Homo sapiens: one gene and its partner. The protein of the gene in region 1 interacts with the protein of each later gene in a pairwise test. Each region holds a gene or a part of one and is shown on either strand. Other genes may lie near its edges. The genes, in order: ZNF705D and GUCD1.

Region 1 (11,274 bases):
GAAAGAAAGAAATAAGTTTATATGCCATGTTATGACTTGATTACTGTTTGGTTTCCAGTATCCTTCTATCCCATCTAGATGAGCTCTTAGTTGAAAATGACTTACAGGAGGGTGGGGGAACTTTCAACCATACCTATTGATTTGTCTAGCACTGTAACCCTTCACCCTGCATGTGGGAAGACCACTCCCATTTTTTACAGGGAAAATGCGCCATCCTATTCCATGCAGCCTTGCAGGGGTCTGTCTCTCCCTGATAAAGGTGCACCACATATGAAAATTGCACAATCACGTCAACCAGACTTCACCAGAAATCTAAATTATAAAAAGAGTTGCACTCAGAATAAAGGCAATTTCTTCAGCACCCTTTTCGGAGGCAAATCCCTGGGTCTGTACATGTATGCCTGGCCAAGATTCAGGGAATTCCTTCAGTTCCCAGCTTTCACTGGGCATAATCATTCAGCATTTTCTGCCATCTTTTAAAACACTGTATTGGCTTCCTATGGCTGCTATCACAAATTACAACAAACTTAGTGACTTAAAGCAACACAAATGCATTATCTGACAGTTCTATAGGCTGCAGGTTTCAGATGGATCTCTGTGGGCCAACATCAAGGTGTCAGCAGGGCTGAGCTTTCTTCTGGAAGCTCTGCAGTTTTCTTCCTGCACCTTTATCCCAGCAATGACAGGCTACTCCTGGGAACCATAGCTTCCTTCATCCATTTTCAAAGCCAGCAATGGAGCATTGAGTCCTCACATTCCATCATTCTGAATTCATCTTCTCCCCACTCTTCCATTTTTTAGGACTCATGATTACGTTGGGCCCACCTGGATAATCTAAGATAATCTCCCTATTTTAAGGTCAGCTGATTAACAGCCTTAATTTCACATGAAACCTCAATTCCCCTTTGCCTTACAAGGTGGCACATTCACAGGACCCAGGAGTTAGGATGTGGATAGCTTTGGCAGGAGACAGAGGGGACATTATTCTGCCTACAACAGCCACTGAGTGCTTTTACCACCTGTCACAATTTTGCTCCATTTAGACACAATTTTAGTGGCTTTGTGTGAAGAGATTCTCATTCATAGAGTTTTCTTTTTTGTGTAAAGTAGTGAGGGGCCTCCCCTTGGTCATTGAAAGAGTATAGAATCAAGATATTTAAAAGTATATTAGCTGGATTTTATTTTTCACTATGACTGATTTGGCCAAGAAACAATGTTAAGTTATGTCACATGGACTACTCGAAATCTCAAAAAGTTCAAAACATTGGGTTCAAAATCTCAGAGATTGAGATATATTCCAACCAACTCAACCCTGTGGAAGTGCCAAGTTTTCCTCAGTGCCACTCTTGAAACCGCATCACCAACTGACCCTTTAATATATTTTTGCACTATATAACATTTATTTCTTAGAGTAAGTGCTTCCCTAGAAAAGAAGCAGTTTGGACACGTATATTAAAGCCGTCACCTAGAATATTATCTTCTCATTGCTAGGAGGTGGCCTTCAAGATGGCTGACTAGAGGTACCAGGCACTGTGTCCTCCCAAAGAAAGACCAAAACAGCAAGTAGATAATCATACCTTGAAGAGGGCATGAAAGAGGGCACTAGAATTCAGCAGCAAAGTGACGAGGAATCTCTGAGGCATGGAAGGAAAGGAAAATGAAGCAGCAGCCCAGCCAGAATCAGCTTAAAGCCAGGACAGGCTCTGCAGTGTGGTGAAAAGGTAAAAAAGAGAGCCCCAGTGGTCCATATTCCCACTGTGGACACTGCAATCCTAGCCAAGGGACGGTCTCTCAGCCCTCGCAGGCCCTGAGACTACTATAGGGAGCTGCCTGGAGTGTATGTGATGGTCATTGTCCCAGAGAAGGAGTTGGCACTGGATCATCTGCACCTGCCCCCAGACACAGGCAGCTGTGGCACAATGCCAATTTGAGAGCCCAGCCCCCAAAAGACTACATCCTGCCCTGGGGCCCAACAGCCCCTGCATCTCCACATCTCTGGACCCTCAGTGACATTCCCTCATGTCCATCCAGAGGCCTGCAGAGTCACAATACCAGCTGAACTCACCAGTGTAGCTTGGTCCCCATCACTCTAGCCTACACAGTGTCCTACACTCCAGGGAACTGGCAGTGCCATTCACTAGAGAGGCTGCCCCCAGAACAAAGGGAGCTGAAGCAGGCACTCTTCACAAGTGGAGAGTCACCTTCCCAGGACCACTGACACTGACAGCAATCCTGACCCCCAGGAGCAGGGCCACTGCACACCTGCAGGCATCCTCAGGGGACCTGGGGACTCACCTGCCTGAGCACTATTCCAGGGCCAGAGCACAGGCCCATCCCACCCATTGCTGTCACTACCACTACCCAAGGTCGTTGTCCAGGACGCTGGGGATCAACCCACACTGCTGTCTGTCATTGGCACCTGTGCATGCCTTCTTGTGACCTAAGTATGAGCCCACCCAGCCTGGTGGTGCCTGTGCACATTGTCTGGGAGCCTGGGGATTAATCCACCATGCCTATCACCATCAAGTACCTGTGTGTCTCCTGAGAGCCTAAGGATAGGACTTCCCAGCCTGCCATCACGGCTGCCACCAATGCCCACATATTTGCACCAGGTGAAAGCCTGAGGACTACTCTGTCCATCATGTTGCCACGACTGTTGGTGTCTGCACATGCCATCTGGGGTCACAAGAGTTGACCTGCTATGACTACAGCACAGGGTCTTGAGGGCATGCCTATCTCCCTAGCTCACCACTGTCACTGCTGGCACTTGAGAAAGCCACCTGACTCACGCCTGTAATCCCAGCACTTTGGAAGGCTGAAGGGGGCAGATCACCTGAGGTCGGGAGTTCAAGACCAGCCTGACCAACATGGAGAAACTCCATCTCTACTAAAAAAAAAAAACAAAAAAAAAAAAATACAAAATTAGCCGGGCATGGAGGTGCATGCCTGTAATCCCAGCTACTCGGGAGGCTGAGGCAGGAGAATTGCTTGAACCTGGGAGGCGGAGGTTGCAGTGAGCTGAGAACACACCATTGCACACCAGCCTGGGCAACAGAGCAAAACTTCATCTCAAAAAAAAAAAAAAAAGCCACCTGAAGGCCCAAGGATGGCCTGCCTGAAACTTCAACCACTGGTGCCCACGTTCATCACCCACAAGTTCAAAGACCAATGCAACTGGTGCCCAAGGACCAAACTGCCTGGCCTGTCTTTCCCCAGCAAAATCTCACCACAGCCTCCATTAACAATGAAGGCTAAGACACTGAGGAGCTCACAGACATCAGTGATGCTGATTATAGCTGAAGAAATCATAGAAGTATAAACTACTGAACCAACTCAGAACTAAAGGCAAAGTGTCTTACTGATTCAACAGTATAGATACAGCTACAGAAGTCAGTCTTTTACTACCAAAGCCAATCTATAAAATTAGAAGAAGCAACTGTTTTACCAGATATTCAAATATCAATGTAAGGACATAAGAAACATTAAAGAGCAAGGAAACATAGCATCCCTGAAGGAAAACCAATAATTCTCCAGCAACAGATTTCAATCAAACAAATCCATAAAATGAGTGAAAAGGAATTTAACAGCTGAAATTGAATAATTCAATAAATAAAATAAATAATACAATTTGAGAACCTCAACAATAGACTAGATTAAGAAGATGAAAGAATTTCTAAACATAAAGATCGGTCTTCATATGCAGGATTAAATGGATTAAAGACTTAAGTGTGAAACACAAAACTATAAAAACCCTGGAAGACAACCTAGGCAATACCATTCAGGACATAGGCACGGGCGAAAATTTTATAACAATGACACCAAAAGCAATTGTGACAAAAGCAAAAATTGACGAATGGGATGTAATTAAACTAAGGAGCTTCTGGGCAGCAAAAGAAACTATTAACAGAGCAAAAAGACAACCTGCAGAATGGGAGAAAACTTTTGCAAGCTATGCATTCGACAAAGATCCAATATACAGCATCTACAAGGAACTTAAAGAAATTTACAAAAAAAAAAAACCTTTAAAAATAGGCAAAAACATGATCAGACGCTTCTCAAAAGAAGACATACATGCTGCCAACAATCATATGAAAAAAAAAGCTCAAGGGTCATGAGGGATTATGACAGACAGGAGGCAGAACTAGATGGCAGCTCTGGACAGAGCAGCATGCGGAGGCTTGCGTTGTGAATTTTAGCTCCAGATGGACTGCAAGAGCAGACCAGCAATCCTGACAGGACCCACAGACCCTCCGAAGGAAGCAGACTGCTCTTGCAGGACCTGGGAGACACCCCAAATACTTTAAGTCCCCTAACCACGGAAATGGGAAAGGGAGACCCTCGTCTCATGAACACACACCCCCACTGGAGAAGCTGAAAGTCTGTTTGTGGGAGAAGTTCGTGACTTTACCTGGAGCTGAGTCAAGTTAGAGAGCCGAGCTGAGCAACATACAGGAGTAGAGGAAGTAGCACAAAGGCACTGGAAGGCCGCTGGATCCCCAAGTAGCCCATTCCTGCCTGGCACGGCAGACATCCATCGGGGGGGTGGCCAGAGGAGCAGGGGGTAAAACTTCACAGGGAGAAGAACCTCTCTAGCTGAACTTTGTAAAAAATTGAATGGGGCTGGAAGCCTCCTGGCCAGAACTCGGGGGAGGGCGTGAATCAGGCTTGCAGACTTCACAGGCGGGGTAAGAACTGAAGCCCATTTCTTTGTCAGTCGGGAGGCAGAAAGCCTCAGGTAAGTTTTCAAGCCAGATTCGCCTTCGGCCTGGAAACAGACTCCGGGCTATCACAAGGGGCATTGTGGGAGTGAGACCCGCCTTTCAGCGTGCCTGGAAGCTAGCTTTCCCCAACTTCCCTGACAACCTGCATGACTCAGCAGAGGCAGCCATAATCCTTCTAGGTACACAACTCCACTGACCTGGGAATCTCACCTCCATCCCCCACAGCAGCCAAAGCAAGACCCACCCAAGGAGAGTCTGAGCTCAGGCACGCCTAGCCCCACCCCCACCTGATGGTCCTTCCATATCCACCCTGGTAGCAGAAGACAAAGAACATACGATCTTTGGAGTTCTGGAGCCCTGCCCACCACTGGTCCCTCTCCACAGTGTCCGGAATTGGTGGGTTCTTGGTCTCGCTGAGTTTAAGAATGAAGCCGCAGACCCTCCTGGTGAGTGTTAACAATTCTTAAAGATGGTGTGTCCAGAGTTGCTTATTCCTCCCAGTGGGTTCATGGTCTGGCTGGCCTCAGAAGTGAAGTTGCAGACCTTCGCAGTGAGTGTTACAGCGCTTAAAGGCGGCACGAAACCAAAGAGTGAGCAGCAGCAAGCTATGTTGCAAAAAGCGAAAGAACAAACTTCCCACAGAATGGAAGGGGACCCAAGCCTGTTGAGCTGTGGGCTCCGGTGGCCTGCTTTTATTCCCTTGTCTGGCCCCCATCCATATCCTGCTGATTGGTCCATTTTACAGAGAGCTGATTGGTCCGTTTTGACAGAGTGCTGACTGGTGTATTTACAAACCTTTAGCTAGACAGAGTGCTGATTGGTGCATTTAAAATCCTTTAGCTGGACACAAAAGTTCTTCAAGTCCCCCACCAGATTAGCTAGACCCAGAGCGCTGATTGGTGCATTTACAAAGTTTTAGCTAGACACAGAGTGCTGATTGGTGCTTTTACAATCATTTAGCTAGACAGAAAAGTTCTCCAAGTCCCCAGCGGGCCCAGAAGCCCAGCCGGCTTCACCTCTTGATGGCACTCGCCAGACAGGACTTTGCAGCACCCAGCCCTGGCACTCCAGCAGCCTAGAGAGAGCTCATCCCCCGGTCAAGCCCAGCAGGCACCGGCCAGCCGCCTCAAGTGTGGGGCCCACCGAGCCCGCGCCCACGCAGAACCCGCGCCAGCCCACAAGGGCCACACGCAGCCCCGGCTCCCACCACGGCCTCTCCCTCCACACCCTGCGAGCAGAGGGAGCCGGCTCCGGCCTTGACCAGCCCCAGAGAGGGACCCCCACAGTGCAGTGGCGGGCTGAAGGGCTCCTCGAGTGCAACCAGAGTGGACGCCGAGGCCAAGGAGGCACTGAGAGCAAGCGAGGGTTGCTAGCATGTTGTCATCTCTCAACACTACTACAGCGGATGCTTTCTGGAAAGCGCCATCTCCCAGCAGGAGGCCCATCAGCACAAAAAATAGAGCCTTAAACCACCAAAATGGTGGAAGCAGTTTGAAAAACAGGTTGGCAGTTTTCAAAGAATTAAAAATAGAGTTAGCATATAACCCAGCAATTCCACTCTTAGGTATATACTTAAGAAAAAAGTTTGTACGTAAGAGTTGAAAAATTCTCAGTGAATTCTTATAGCAGCGTTATTCATAATAGTAAAAAAGCTGAAATAACCCAAATGCCCATCAGCTGATAAATATATAAACACATTGTGGTATATTTATATAATACAGTATTATTTATTGATAGAAGGAATGAAATAGCTATATATCCTACAACGTGGATGACCCCCATGGAGTCATCAGAACACCACCATCATTCTTCAGAGTTAGTAAAAACAATTCTAAAATTCATATGGAACAAAAAAAGAGCCCACATATCCAAAGCAAGACAAAGCAATAAGAACAAATCTGGAGGCATCACACTACCTGATTTCAAAGTATGCTATAAGATCATAGTCACCAAAACAGTGTGGTACCAGAAAAATATATACATCAAAATATGTGCACTTTAATAACATAGCATCAAATTTATAAAACAAAAATTGAGCAACCTACAAGGAAAAATGAAAAAATTCCAAACTATAGTGGGAGATTATAACTTATTTTTCTTAGTCATTCAAAGAAAAAGAAGACTTTAAACATCAATAATACATTGGATGTTAATAAAAATTTACTATTTTTGTGAAGGAAATAATTACAAATAACTTCATTCAACAACTACAGAATACAGTTTTAATAGGACATATTGAATATGCACAAATATTGACCATATAACGATTTGTTCTACATGCCAAATCTTAACAAAAGTCAAATAACTGACACTCTACAGAAAGTGTTCATTTATCACACTGATATGAAATTATAAGAAACTGTTCTAAAACCCAGTTAATTAAAGAAAAAAATCTTAGTGAAAAAATAAATATATTGAAATTAAAATATTACTTATTAAAACTTTTTGGATTCCATTGGTATAATATTAAAGAGGAAATTCAGGGTCATAATTGCTAATATTAGAAAATAATAATGGTGAGTCTTTGGCAATACCATCATGAACACTCCTGATCTCATCTGATCTCAGAAGAAAATAATAATAGAAAACAGAAACATCTCAGTCTTTGCAGTATGAATTACAAAGAAAATAAAATGCACAAATAAAAGTAACAGGAAAAAAGGAAGCATCTTTAAATATGCAAAACCATTAACGAAACTTGACAAAATTAACTCAAGATGAAACAGAAAATAAGAATGTTTTCCTGAATTAATAAAGCAACTAATTCTGTAATCAATAACCTTCCAAAAAAGAGGGCACTTAACTTATATTTTCAACCACATTTCAGAAATTTAAAAAATTGTAATTATATCCAACTCTTCTAAGAAAAAAAGAAAAAGGGACACTCCAAAACATCGTATTTATCAAAACAATTTTTATTAAGATAATATTCACACAATGAAATATTCACTATTTCAACCATTTTGATTTGTTTAATTTAATAGATGTTAGTATATTTACAATGTTGTGCAGCCATCACCACTATTTGATTCCAAAACCTTTCCATCACCCCAAAAAGAAACTCCTTCTCTAATCCCCAGAAACTACTAATTTGTTTTCTATCTTTATAGATTTGACTATTCTGGACAGTACATAACTGGAATTATAAAATATATACCCATTTGTGTCTGCCTTCCATAACTTAACATAATTTTTCAAGGTCATCCAAGTTGTAGGATATATAGCTATTTCATTCCTTCTATCAATAAATAATACTGTGTTATATAAATATACCACATTGTGTTTATATATTTATCAGCTGATGGGCATTTGGGTTATTTCAGGTTTTTTTACTATTATGAATAATGCTGCTATGAGAATTCATTGAGAATTTTTCAACTCTTAGGTAGAAACTATTTTCTTAAGTATATACCTAAGAGTAGAATTGCTGGGTTATATGGTGACTCTATTTTTAATTCTTTAAGAAATGCCAACCTGTTTTTCAAACTACCTCCACCATTTTATGTTTCCATCAGAAATGTATGAGAATCCAATTTCTCCACATTTTCCACAACACTTGTTATTTTCCATCTTTCTTGATAATAGTTATTCCACTCGATATCAAATGGTATCTCATTGTGGTTTTTTCATTTCCCTTTCATGTGCTTATAGCCCACTTAAATATCTTTTTCAAAAAACTATTCAAATCTTTTGATCATTTCTTAGATCATTTGTGTTTTATTGTCGTTGTTGCTGCTGCTGATTTGTAGTAGTTCTTTATATATTCTGGATATTAATCCAATTTTCAAATATTTTTCTCATATTCATTGGGCTTTTTTCCCCTTCCTTGGCAGTATCCTTTAATGCACTCAAATTTTTAACTTAAATGAAGTCCAATTTAACTATTTTTTGTGGCTATGTTTTTGGTGTCATATTTAAGAAAGCATTGCCTAATCTAAGGTCACAAATATTTGTACCATTTTTTCCTAAACATTTACAATTTTAGTTATCACATTAAGGTCTTTGGTCAGTTTTGAATTAATTCTCATATATGGCATGAGGTAGACAAATTTTTCCTTTTACATGTGGATATCCAGTTGTCCCAGCACCATTTGTTGAAGACTATTCGTTCCTCATTAAATGCTCTTGGCACCCTTGTTGAAAATCAATTGCATGTAGATGAATGGGTTTATTTCTGAACTTTAAATTTGATTTTATCAGTCTATATGTCTATTCTTACACCATTATCACACTGTTCAGATTATTGTGACTTTGAGGTAAGTTTTGAAATTGAGAAATTTGAGTGCTCCCACTTTGTTCTTCTATTTCAAAATTGTTTTGGATATTTAATCGTCTTTTCATTTCTATATAAATTTTAGAATAATTTTTGTCAATTTCTGCAAAAAGACAGAATTTTGATAGGGGTTGCATTAAATCTGTAAATCAATTTGGGAAGTATTTTCAGTTAAATTATATTAAATCTTCCAACTCATGAGCATGAGAAATCTTTCCATTCACTTGGGTCTTCTTTTTCTTTCAAAAATATTTTGTAGACTCAGCGGACAAGTCTTACACTTCCTTCATTGCACTATTTCCTATGTATTTAATGTTTTATGCTATTGTAAGTATCATTGTTTTCTTCATTTAACTTCCAAGTTGTTCATTCCTATTACAGAAAAGAAATGCAGCTGATTTTTGCATATTGATCTAGTATCTTCAAACTTTGTTGAAATTGTTTATTAGCCCTAATAGATTTTTGTGAATTCTTTTGAGTATTCTACATGTAATATCATTTCATGGCTTAATGGAGATAATAATGCTTCTTCCTTTCCTCCGAATGCCTTTAGTTTCTTCTTAGCCTAATTGCCTTTGCTAGAACTTTCAGCACATTGTTGAACGGAAGTGTCAAGGGCAGACATTCTTTTCTTGTTCCTGTTTTTAGGAGAAAACCTTTTAGTCTTTCACTATTAGGTATGATGTTAGCTACACTTTTCTTATCGATGCTCGTTATCAGGGTGAGAAAATTGTCTTGGATTTATGATTTCTTGAGTGTCATCATGAAAGGACACTAGATTTTGTCAAATAATTGTTTATGTCTTTTGAGACGATTGTGGCTTTTTTTCCCTTTATTCTACTAATATTGATTGATTTTGCAGATTTAAAAAAACTTCTTTTTTTTCTTCTTTTTTTTTTTTTTTTGAGACAGGGTCTTGCTGTGTCACCCAGGCTGGAGGGCAGTGGTGCAATCTCACCTCACTGCAGCCTCTGCTTCTCGGGTTCAAGCGATTCTCTTGCCTCAGCCACCGGAGTAGCTGAAATTACAGTCGTGCGCCACCGCGCCCAGCTAAATTTGTATCTTTAGTGGAGATGGAGTATTGCCATGTTGGCCAGGCTGGTCTCGAACTCCTGGCCTCAAGTGACCTGCCTGCCTTAGCCTCCCAAAGTGCCGGGATTACCGGCTTGAGCCACCGCCCACAAGCCAATTCTTAAAATAAATTGCACTTGGTTGTGGTGTATAATCCTTCTAATGTATTGCTAGATTCCATTTTAAAGTATTTTGTTAAGAATTTTTGTATCTTTATTTATAAAGAATACTGGACTAGTTTTCATTTCTGGTAATGTCTTTGTCTTGCTTTCATATCAGGGTAATACTGGTCACATAAAATTAGTTTGGAAATGTGTCATAATTTTTTAAAGACTGTAGGAAAGCTTAGCCTTCATTATTCTTTAAACGTGATTAAATTCACTAGTACAGCCATCTGGTCCTGGATTATATTTTTGGAAGTTTTTGATCACAGACTCACTACCGTCACTTGTTATATGTCTATCTGTATTTTTTATTTCTTCTTGACTCAGTTTTGGTAGTTTATTTGTAGAAATTGTCCATCATTTTATTTAGGGTATCTAATTTGTTGACATACAATTATTCATAGGGTTCTCTTATAATTTCTTTTATCTATGTAAGTTGGGTAGTAGTATCCCCACTCTTTTTTTTTTTTTTTTTTTTTTTTTTTTGAGACAGAGTCTCGCTTTGTTGCCCAGGCTGGAGTGCAGTGGCGCCATCTCCGCTCACTGCAAGCTCTGTCTCCTGGGTTCACGCCATTCTCCTGCATCAGCCTCCGAAGTAGCTGGGACTCCAGGCGCCCGCCACCACGCCCGGCTAATTTTTTGTATTTTTTTAGTAGAGACGGGGTTTCACCATGTTAACCAGGATGGTCTTGATCTCCTGATCTCGTGATCTGCCTGCCTCAGCCTCCCAAAGTGCTGGGATTACAGGCGTGATCCACCGCGCCTGGCCTTTATTTTTAATTTTAGTAATTTATGTATTCTTCCTTTTTTCCTTGGTCAGTATAGCAAAAGGTTAGTCAAGTTTCTCGATCTTTTCAAATAATCAACTTTTGGTTTTGTTGATTTCTCTACTGTTTTGTTATTCTCTATTTCACTTTGCTCTAATATTTATTATTTTATTTTTCCTGCTTGCTGTGAATTTAATTAGTTCTTCTTTTCCTGGGTTCTGAATTTCGAATGTTAGCTATCTATTTTATTCATTCTTTTTTAAGGTAAGGGTTTACAT
Region 2 (8,717 bases), on another chromosome or scaffold:
ATTTTCATTATTGACGTAGTATAATCACATGATAGGTGATTTAGAAAATGGGGGTTTGGGGGCCGGGCGCGGTGGCTCACGCCTGTAATCCCAGCACTTTGGGAGGCTGAGGTGGGCGGATCACGAGGTCAGGAGATCGAGACCATCCTGGCTAACACGGTGAAACCTTGTCTCTACTAAAAATACAAAAAATTAGTCGGGCGTGGTGGCAGGCGCCTGTAGTCCCAGCTACTCGGGAGGCTGAGGCAGGAGAATGGCCTGAACCCAGGAGGCGGAGCTTGCAGTGAGCCGAGATAGTGCCACTGCACTCCGGCCTGGGGGACAGAGCGAGACTCTGTCTGAATCTGCCCTCAAGGAAACAGAAAGGCAAATCCAGGATGTGGGACATTTTCCAAGAGTACTGCCCCGGGCTTTAAAAATCAACAAAACAGGCCGGGCACGGTGGCTCACGCTTGTAATCCCAGCACTTTGGGAGGCCGAGGCGGGCGGATCACGAGGTTAGGAGATCGAGATCATGGTGAAACCCCGTCTCTACTAAAAATACAAAAAATTAGCTGGGCGCAGTGGCGGGTGCCTGTAGTCCCAGCTACTCGGGAGGCTGAGGCAGGAGAATGGCATGAACCCAGGAGGCGGAGCTTGCAGTGAGCCGAGATCGCGCCACTGCACTCCAGCCTGGGCAACAGAGACAGACTCTGTCTCAAAAAAAAAAAGAATATAGTGGGGTGGGATCTCCATTCATACTATGACCACATGGGCACATGTTGGAAGGAAAGGCAGCAAATGTTTATTTAGCAGCCCTCAACAGGTGCTGTCTCCTTGAGTGGGAAAGCTGTTGCTATCTCTGCTTCTCGGGGGAGGAAACTGAGGAGGAGAGAGACACCCAAGGTCACCCCCAGCATCTTGGCCATGCCATGATCTGAACCCATGCTTGTTATTCCTTGAAGCCTGTAGTTTTTCCTTCCAGCCAAGCCCCTGCTTTTTCCCTATAGCTGAAATCCCACTCCTGTGCACTGCCACTGGGAACTCAGCCAGCTATTTTGTTTCAAAGACCAAATGGAAAAATGGCATGTTTCCTTGGCCAAGGCAGCAATCCAAACTGCCACGTGACTCAGCTGTGGCTGAAGCTGGGTCAGGCCACATGGTACTGATGCTGCCACTCCTAAGGAAGGCCCCAAGTGGGTGAGCAGCCCCTCCAGCAAAGATGCAGGAGCCCCTGGCCTAGAGCTCCCCCTGCCCACAGCCCCATCTGCCCTCTGTCCCTCTGGGTGTTTTCTTTTCTTTTCTTTTTTTTTTTTTTAAGAGACAGGGTCTTAATCTGTCATACAGGCTGTAGTGCTGTGGCGCAATATTGCAATACAGCTCACTGCTACAGCCCCAGGCTTAAGTGATCTTCTTGCCTCAGTCTCCCGAGTAGCTGGAACCACAATCTCATACCACCACGCCCCACGCCTGGTAAATTTTTAAATGTTTTTGTAAAGACAGGGTACTGCTGTGTTGCCCAGGCTGGTCTCTAATTCCTAGTCTCAAGCGATCCTTCCGCTTTGGCCTCCCAAAGCACTGGGATTACAGGTGTGAGCCACTGTGCCCAGCCCTGCTCTAGGTTTTCATTTGGATTTGCTGCCTAGTGGAAGGCACAGGATGGGGCAGTGCCTTCTGCCAGTGAGGGAGGCTCCAGGTAGATGTCATTGCTGAACTGGAGCTCCCCTGGAAGCAATGTGGCCCAGCCCTTCCTGGGCAGCCCCTTCTGCCACCAGGAGCCTTAGAAAAAAAGTAAAATAGCTCTTTCAGAGAAGCATTTGGTTTTGAAAGTGTCTGAGCCATGCTTGGCTGGCAGTTTTCAATGTAAACCACACATGATTTAGGGTAGAGGAGAGACAGGGCTGGGCAAAAAGAATTCACTAACCAGGCTGGGGTGCAGTAGGAGGATGGTTTCTGTGTGCTGCTCTAGTGGCCCTTGACTGGACCCACCTGGAGCTGAATGCTCTCCCCGTGAAGGGCCTGACAGAGCCAGCTCATCTTTGTGCACATTCAGACACACACACACACCCCCCCCACCGGTCTCCTGCTTGGCTCTAGGCTGAGCCTGGGCCACAGTGACAGAGCAGGGAGTTCAGGGCAAAGGGAAAAGGAGCCGATCCCCAAGCTTTGTAACAGAGAAACAGGCACAAGCAGGGATCCATTTGAGGGATGGGGAATGGGGGCCCAGCAGCACCAGCTGACCCCCCTCCCGCCCACAGCACAGTGAGTGTGAAGGACATCCAGGCGCACCTGGCTCAGGGCCATGTGGCCATCGTGCTGGTGAACTCGGGGGTGCTGCACTGTGACCTGTGCTCCAGCCCTGTCAAGTACTGCTGCTTCACCCCCAGTGGCCACCACTGCTTCTGCCGCACTCCTGACTACCAGGGCCACTTCATCGTGCTGCGTGGCTACAACCGGGCCACTGGCTGCATCTTCTACAACAACCCAGCCTATGCCGACCGTGAGTGCTGGGTGGGGTGGGTGAGGCAGAGTGGTCCACATTCACTGTTCTGTATGCCCAGTGCCCACAGTTCCCACCCATTCAATCTAGTGTGGCCAGGGCCTCCCTCCCTACCTTTTCCCCAAAGCCCCTGCTCCTCCTGGGCTCTTGTCACTGTGGCCACCCCTCAGGCCATGCAGGCAAACCTGCCGCAAACTGTGCCAGCCTCCTCTACACCCTGGCCACCCCTCCCTCTCACACCACAGGCCCCACGCCACTGCCCAGGTCCCTGCCTTACCCTTTCATGCTGCCCAGGCTGCACCCCTCCCCCAACCACCAGGATGGCCGGCACATTCCTCAGAAAGAAAAGCCCGGCCAGACCCAGCCCCTGCTCTAGACCCATCCTGGCCTGCCTACTGCCCTCCGGGCACAGGGAAGGGCTGCCCTGACTCTCATAGACTGGATTCACATAGACAGCCCCTGGACGCCCTGACCACATAGACTTACCCCGTCTATGTGGCCTGGAGCACGTTTCTGCCCCTCTCTGGGCCTTTCTCCAACTGCTTTACTGGGGAGGAGTCAGAGAAACCTCATGAAGACCAGGATGGGCAAGGAGGGCTTCCTGGGGGTGGAGGACTTGAGTTGAGAGGAATGGCCATGTGGATGGGAAACAGACCTCACTCAGCTCCCCTGGGCACTGTGTCGGTGGTGTAGGTGCTCTCTCACAACCCACTGACCCCGTTCTGCCTTCCCCACCCCCAGCAGGAATGTGCAGCACCAGCATCAGTAACTTTGAGGAGGCCAGAACCAGCTATGGCACAGATGAGGACATCCTCTTTGTCTACTTGGACAGCTGACAGCAGGAGCCTGGTGCGCCTAGGCCCTCGGACCCCATCCCCACCCCAGCCGGGCCCGCTCAGGATGCCCTGGCCCAGGCTTGGGGCTGCTGGGGTTGGAATGTGGAACTGCAGCCTCAGCCCATCTGGCAGAGTCCCAGGAACTCGGAGACTGGCACAGCTGCTTTGTCTGCCAGTGCCGTGTGTTGTCATGTCACTCACCCCAAGCACCTGCTGGCTGCTGGAAGCATACCCCAAGACCCCAAGCCTTGACTCCAGCTGCGCCCACAGGAAGTCCAGTCCCGACAGTGCCCTTGTTGCCTTTGAGCCAGATCCATGGCAATGGTCTCCCCACAGACCGCAGGACTGAGCCTGGAGAGAGAAGTTGCTTGACGGATGCCACTTGTCAGGACAGTATGTGAGTGTCTGGAGACAGCATAGCTGACCCCAATCCCCCAGGGCTGAGGACCCCTCCAGGCCCCTCTCTCCTGGAAGTGCTGCATATGCCCCTGTGCCCAGTGGTTGATGATACCACCACCACCTGCCTACCCATGGGCCCAAGTTTCTGTGGCTCATTACAGGGCATCTGACCCCTGCCACCCAGCATAGACACACCTCACAGCTGCCCTGCCATGCAGAGCCCTGGCCGCTGGAGACTCTTAAAGCCCCCACAGCCCTCCAGGTCCTCCAGCTCTGTCAGATGGAGGGCTCTCGGGCCTAGATCCCACTGGTAGGCCTCGTGGCTGGCAGCAGTGCTCTGGGAATAAACAGCTGCCCTAGCCCCAGAGGGATCCCTGCACCCAGGAGGCCTCCTGACACCAGCCAAAATCCTGACAGCAGGGTCTGCCCTCTTGAGTGTGGGGAGCCCCTAGTCCTTTAAGGTTGGCTGCTAAGGCCTGTGCTCCAAAGCAACGGGCTGGGGCAGCCTGCAGCTGCCCACCCAACCTGGTCTTCACACCAGATTGCACAGGATACTGGGTCTTGTCTATCTTGATGGAGAAGAGGGGTTCCTGCCCAGGATCTTACAACACAGCAAGTAGCATAGAGCTCTTTCCTTCCTCTTTTTTGGGGAGGTTGGGGTCAGGGGTTGTTTCTTTGAGATTTAAGTTTTCATTTTTGAGGGGTAATCACCTTCAAGTAAAACAGTAATAGCAAGAGTGAAGGTACTTTGGAACCACTAACACCTCTGCACAGGGCAGTTAGCCAGCTCAAGTTCTTTTTCAGAGAAAGGGACTTGGCCAGTGGTTTAAGTACCTGCCCCTTCACCTCTCAGACGAGGCAGCTGACGAGGCAGCTGGCCCAGTCTTGGGAGTCTGCTCAGGACAGTGGTGGAGCTGGGTCTTGAACCCCAGTCTGCACCTAAAAAACTAAAGGAAATGGATTTTTTTTTTTTTTTTTGAGACGGAGACTCACTCTGTTGCCCAGACTGGAGTGCAGTGGCACGATCTTGGCTTACTACAACCTCCGCCTCCTGGGTTCAAGCGATCCTCCTGCCTCAGCCCCCCACTAGCTGGGACTACAGGCACATGCCACCATGCCCGGCTAATTTTTTTGTATTTTTAGTAGAGACCAGGCTTCGCCATGTTGGCCAGGCTGGTCTCGAACCCCTGAGCTCAGGTGATCCACCTGCCTCGGCCTCCCAAAGTGGGAAATGGGTCATTTTCAAAGGGGCAACAGTGATACCATCCCTGCACTCCTGGGTCCTGCTCTTCCAATGCCCAAGGCATGGCATGGTGGCAGCTGTGCCCCCGCCCATTGCTTTGGAGCACAGATGACTCTGGGGGCAGAGGTGGGCTCTGTTTAGGAGGGCAGTGAGACCACCCAGCCAAATTGCTTCTCAACCCTAGACAAAGCCTTTGGCCAAGAGGGAGGTGCTGTTAGTTGGGCAGCCCTTCTGGGTTTCAGAGACCGGTGTTGGCTCTAGACTGGTCTCATCTCCATTGCCTTAATGCCAGGTGGCCCAGGAGTACCCATGCACAGCAGCTGTGGGGTGTGGGCATCTTCAGGTGGTGTTCTGGTAAAATTGTTAGAATAGCTGTATGAAGGAAACCAGTGGGAGGAAATGAAGTTTTCAGGATGGTGGGATGTGATTTAGACAGTGCACATGCTGTTAGGGCTGTCACTAGGGAGTGGCCTTCATGGAGGGTGGTAACAGCACCTCAGTCCAGCCAAAATGTTTAGAAACACTCAGTCTCTGGTCCCAGAGGATGGCTTCTCAGGGCATGCCACAAGTTAAAGGTCACCTTCCTGAAAGATGAATGAGAAAGCTGCCCATTCTCAAGACTCATCTGCCTAGGGAGGGTCACAGAGGCAGGATGTAAGACACACTGTGTTGCATTCTTGCACAAGTCATGAAAATGGAGCCAGAGAGCCTGGACATCAGGGACTTTTGCCCACAGCACATGACACCGACAGCTGCCCAGCCTGTTCACATGCTGGGGACCAGCACAGCACCTGAAGCCATGTGGGACAGTTGGGCTTTGTTCATTCTAGCCACGGGGATGAAAGGGATCTTTTGCATTGCAGAGATTTTATATATATTTTGTTTGTAATGAGCCATTCTCAATAAACATTATTCTCACTGCAAAATGGTGGTAGCCCCTGGCTGGCCTTTATGAAGCTGTGTTGATCTGCAGAATTCCTGTCCCTTCTCAAGTTCTCAGCATGAGCACATGGGAACCCAGGTCCTTGTCTTGCCATACCCAGTTTAGCTGGGACTGGAATCCTGTTTTCTGTTTTCTAGGGCCATATCCATCCCGTTCAGGCCTGGATGCTTGTGCCTGTCCTGGACAGGCAGTACTAGAGGTAGAAGGGCCTCGGGGCTCAGCTCAAGTGAACTGCAACAAATGCAACTACAGGAGACACAACAGAATGAGGGAGATGTTGAAGCAGGAGAGACGAAAGTGGGTGGGATGGTGAGTGCTGGGTGGAGCTGGCTGCTCAGAGCATGCAGAGTTGGGGTTGAGGTAGACAGACCAAGAGTGCAGTAGTGCGATCTCGGCTCACTCCAACCTCCACCTCCTGGGTTGAAGCAATTCTCCTGCCTCAGTCTCCTGAGTAGCTGGGATTACAGGCACACACGACCACGCCCGGCTAATTTTTGTATTCTTAGTAGACACAGGTTTTACCATGATGTTGGCCAGGCTGCTCTCGAACTCCCAGCCTCAAGTGATCTGCCTGCCTCAGTCTCCCAAAGTGCTGGGATTACAGGCATGAGCCACTGTGCCTGGCCAATGTCATCACTTTTAAAGAAGCACTTCTGTTCCTTCCCATCCTCCCTCAAACACATCATCTTGTCTGTCTCCACTGCTATAGCCCCAGTATCTGACACCTAGTAGATGTTCAGTAAATGTGAGTGAACGGATAGTAGGCTAAAACAATACCTGTTTCAGCAGCTTTCCTGTACTTTTCAGAACTAAAAGTAATCATTAAAGGGGAGGCAGAAGGCCGGGCACGGTGGCTCATGCCTGTAATCCCAGCACTTTGGGAGGCCAAGGCGGGCAGATCACCTGAGGTTGGGAGTTCGTGACCAGCCTGACCAACATGGAGAAACCCTATCTCTACTAAAAATACAAAATTAGCTGGGCATGGTGGCACATGCCTGTAATCCCAGCTACTCAGGAGGCTGAGGCAGGAGAATTGCTTGAACCCGGGAGGTGGAGGTTGTGGTGAGCTGAGATCACATCATTGCACTCCAGCCTGGGCAACAAGAGCAAAACTCTGTCTCAAAAAATTAATAATAATAATAAAGGGGAGGCAGAACTTGAATCCTTTGATGTCACCCAGGATTCAGGAGACACTCTCTCCTACAAGGAATGGTGGAAGGAGCAAGATGTACTGCCCATTAGAAAAGCTTCAAGTGACCAGGTGTAGTGGTTCACGCCGGTAATCCTAGCACTTTGGGAAGCAAAGGCTGGAGGATCACTTGAGGCTAGAAGTTCAAGACTTGTGTGGGGCCGGGCACAGTGGCTCATGCCTGTAATCCTAGCACTTTGAGAGGCTGAGGTAGGTGGATCATTTGAGCCCAGGAGTTTGAGACTAGCCTGGGCAGCATGGCAAAATCTTGCCTCTACAAAAAATTAGCCGGGCATGGTGGCACGTGCCTGTGGTCCCAGCTGTTCAGGAAGCTGAGGTGACAGGACCTCCTGAGCCCAGGAGGTCAAGGCTGCAGTGAGCTGTGATTGTGCCACTGTACTCCAGCCTGGGCAACAGGACAAGACCCTGTCTCAAACAAACAAAAAATGGCCAGGCATGGTGACTAACACCTGTAATCCCAACCTTGGAAGGTAATCCCAACCTTGGTAGGCAGATCACTTGAGCTCAGAAGTTTGAGCCTAGTCTGGGCAACATGGTGAAAGCTCATCTCCACCAAAAATACAAAAAATTAGCCAGGCATGGTGGTGCACACCTGTGGTCCCAGCTACTCGGGAAGCTGAGGTGTGAAGATGCTTGAGCCCGGGAGGTCGAGGCTGCAGTGAGCCATGATTAAACGACTGCACTCCAGCCTAGGTAACAGAGTGAGACCTTTTCACTTAAAACAAACAAACAAACAAAAAAAAACGAAAAACACTTTTTTAAAAAAAAGGCTTCATGTTATTTAAACTTAGGATTCCCCTCATGACAGGTTTCTGCAAGTGCAGGTGTCCCCTGGCCTCCAATCCCCCTGGATGGAGAATCAGTGCAAGAAAATTCTGGCACTCTGGCTTTACGTCTAGTCTGAGTCAGCGAAGAACAAAATCCCTGGGGCCTCAACCAGAAAGCAATGTGGCTATGGAGTCAAGGGATCCCCAAAGCTGAAATAAACAGAGTCAGTAATGGTGGCCTTGCCACTTGATACAGGGCTGTGGGTGGGCTGAAAATATTGGAAACTCATTTGTTTGAGCCACAAATTGCTGCCACACTCTTTGAACCTAGAAGTAAGAAGTGCCCTCATTTAATGGCACAGAACCAGTCTCTTGCCTGCAAGGCTCTTGCCCACAATCCCTGGTCCCTCACTTATTCTCTACCTCAACCTCAGCTGCTTTAAGGAGAAATGATGAGGGACAGGGATGAGGTCTCCCTGTCCTCAAGGGGGACCAAAGGCCGTGAGCACCCGAGTATGCTAAGGTACACTGGGGACAAAAGTGCCTTGAAACTTGTCTCTTGGATATGGGTGCATAAGCCACCATCCTACCTGGTCTCATGGGGGAAAGGGAGTGTCCAAATTCAACTGACAGGGTTTGGACAAGTTTCATAGTGCAGAGAGAAAAAGCCAAGTGCTGTAGGGCCCTTTGGGACAATTCGAAGTCTTGGTTTTGTTGCATCTATACCTGAATTTGTGTTAGGAACTGGTGCTTCTCCTTCCAGCCCTGAAGTGCCAAAGGGGGTTCTCTCAGTCAATGCCAGTGGGATAAGCTCCCCTGCCATTTACCCGCCATGGGTGA

What was found.
Region 2: the proteins of ZNF705D (region 1) and GUCD1 interact in binary tests that used the Homo sapiens proteins (3 or more experiments, as listed by UniProt).

The regions. Positions count from the first base shown.
Region 1 is NC_000008.11:12,083,427-12,094,700, reverse strand, and holds the start of ZNF705D (zinc finger protein 705D), read right to left. Parts: upstream 5,364-11,274; 5' UTR 5,058-5,363; intron 1-5,057. UniProt on the Homo sapiens protein: May be involved in transcriptional regulation.
Region 2 is NC_000022.11:24,537,604-24,546,320, reverse strand, and holds the end of GUCD1 (protein GUCD1), read left to right. Parts: intron 1-2,237; coding exon 2,238-2,479; intron 2,480-3,220; coding exon of another isoform or gene 3,221-3,223; coding exon 3,224-3,315; 3' UTR 3,316-5,883; downstream 5,884-8,717.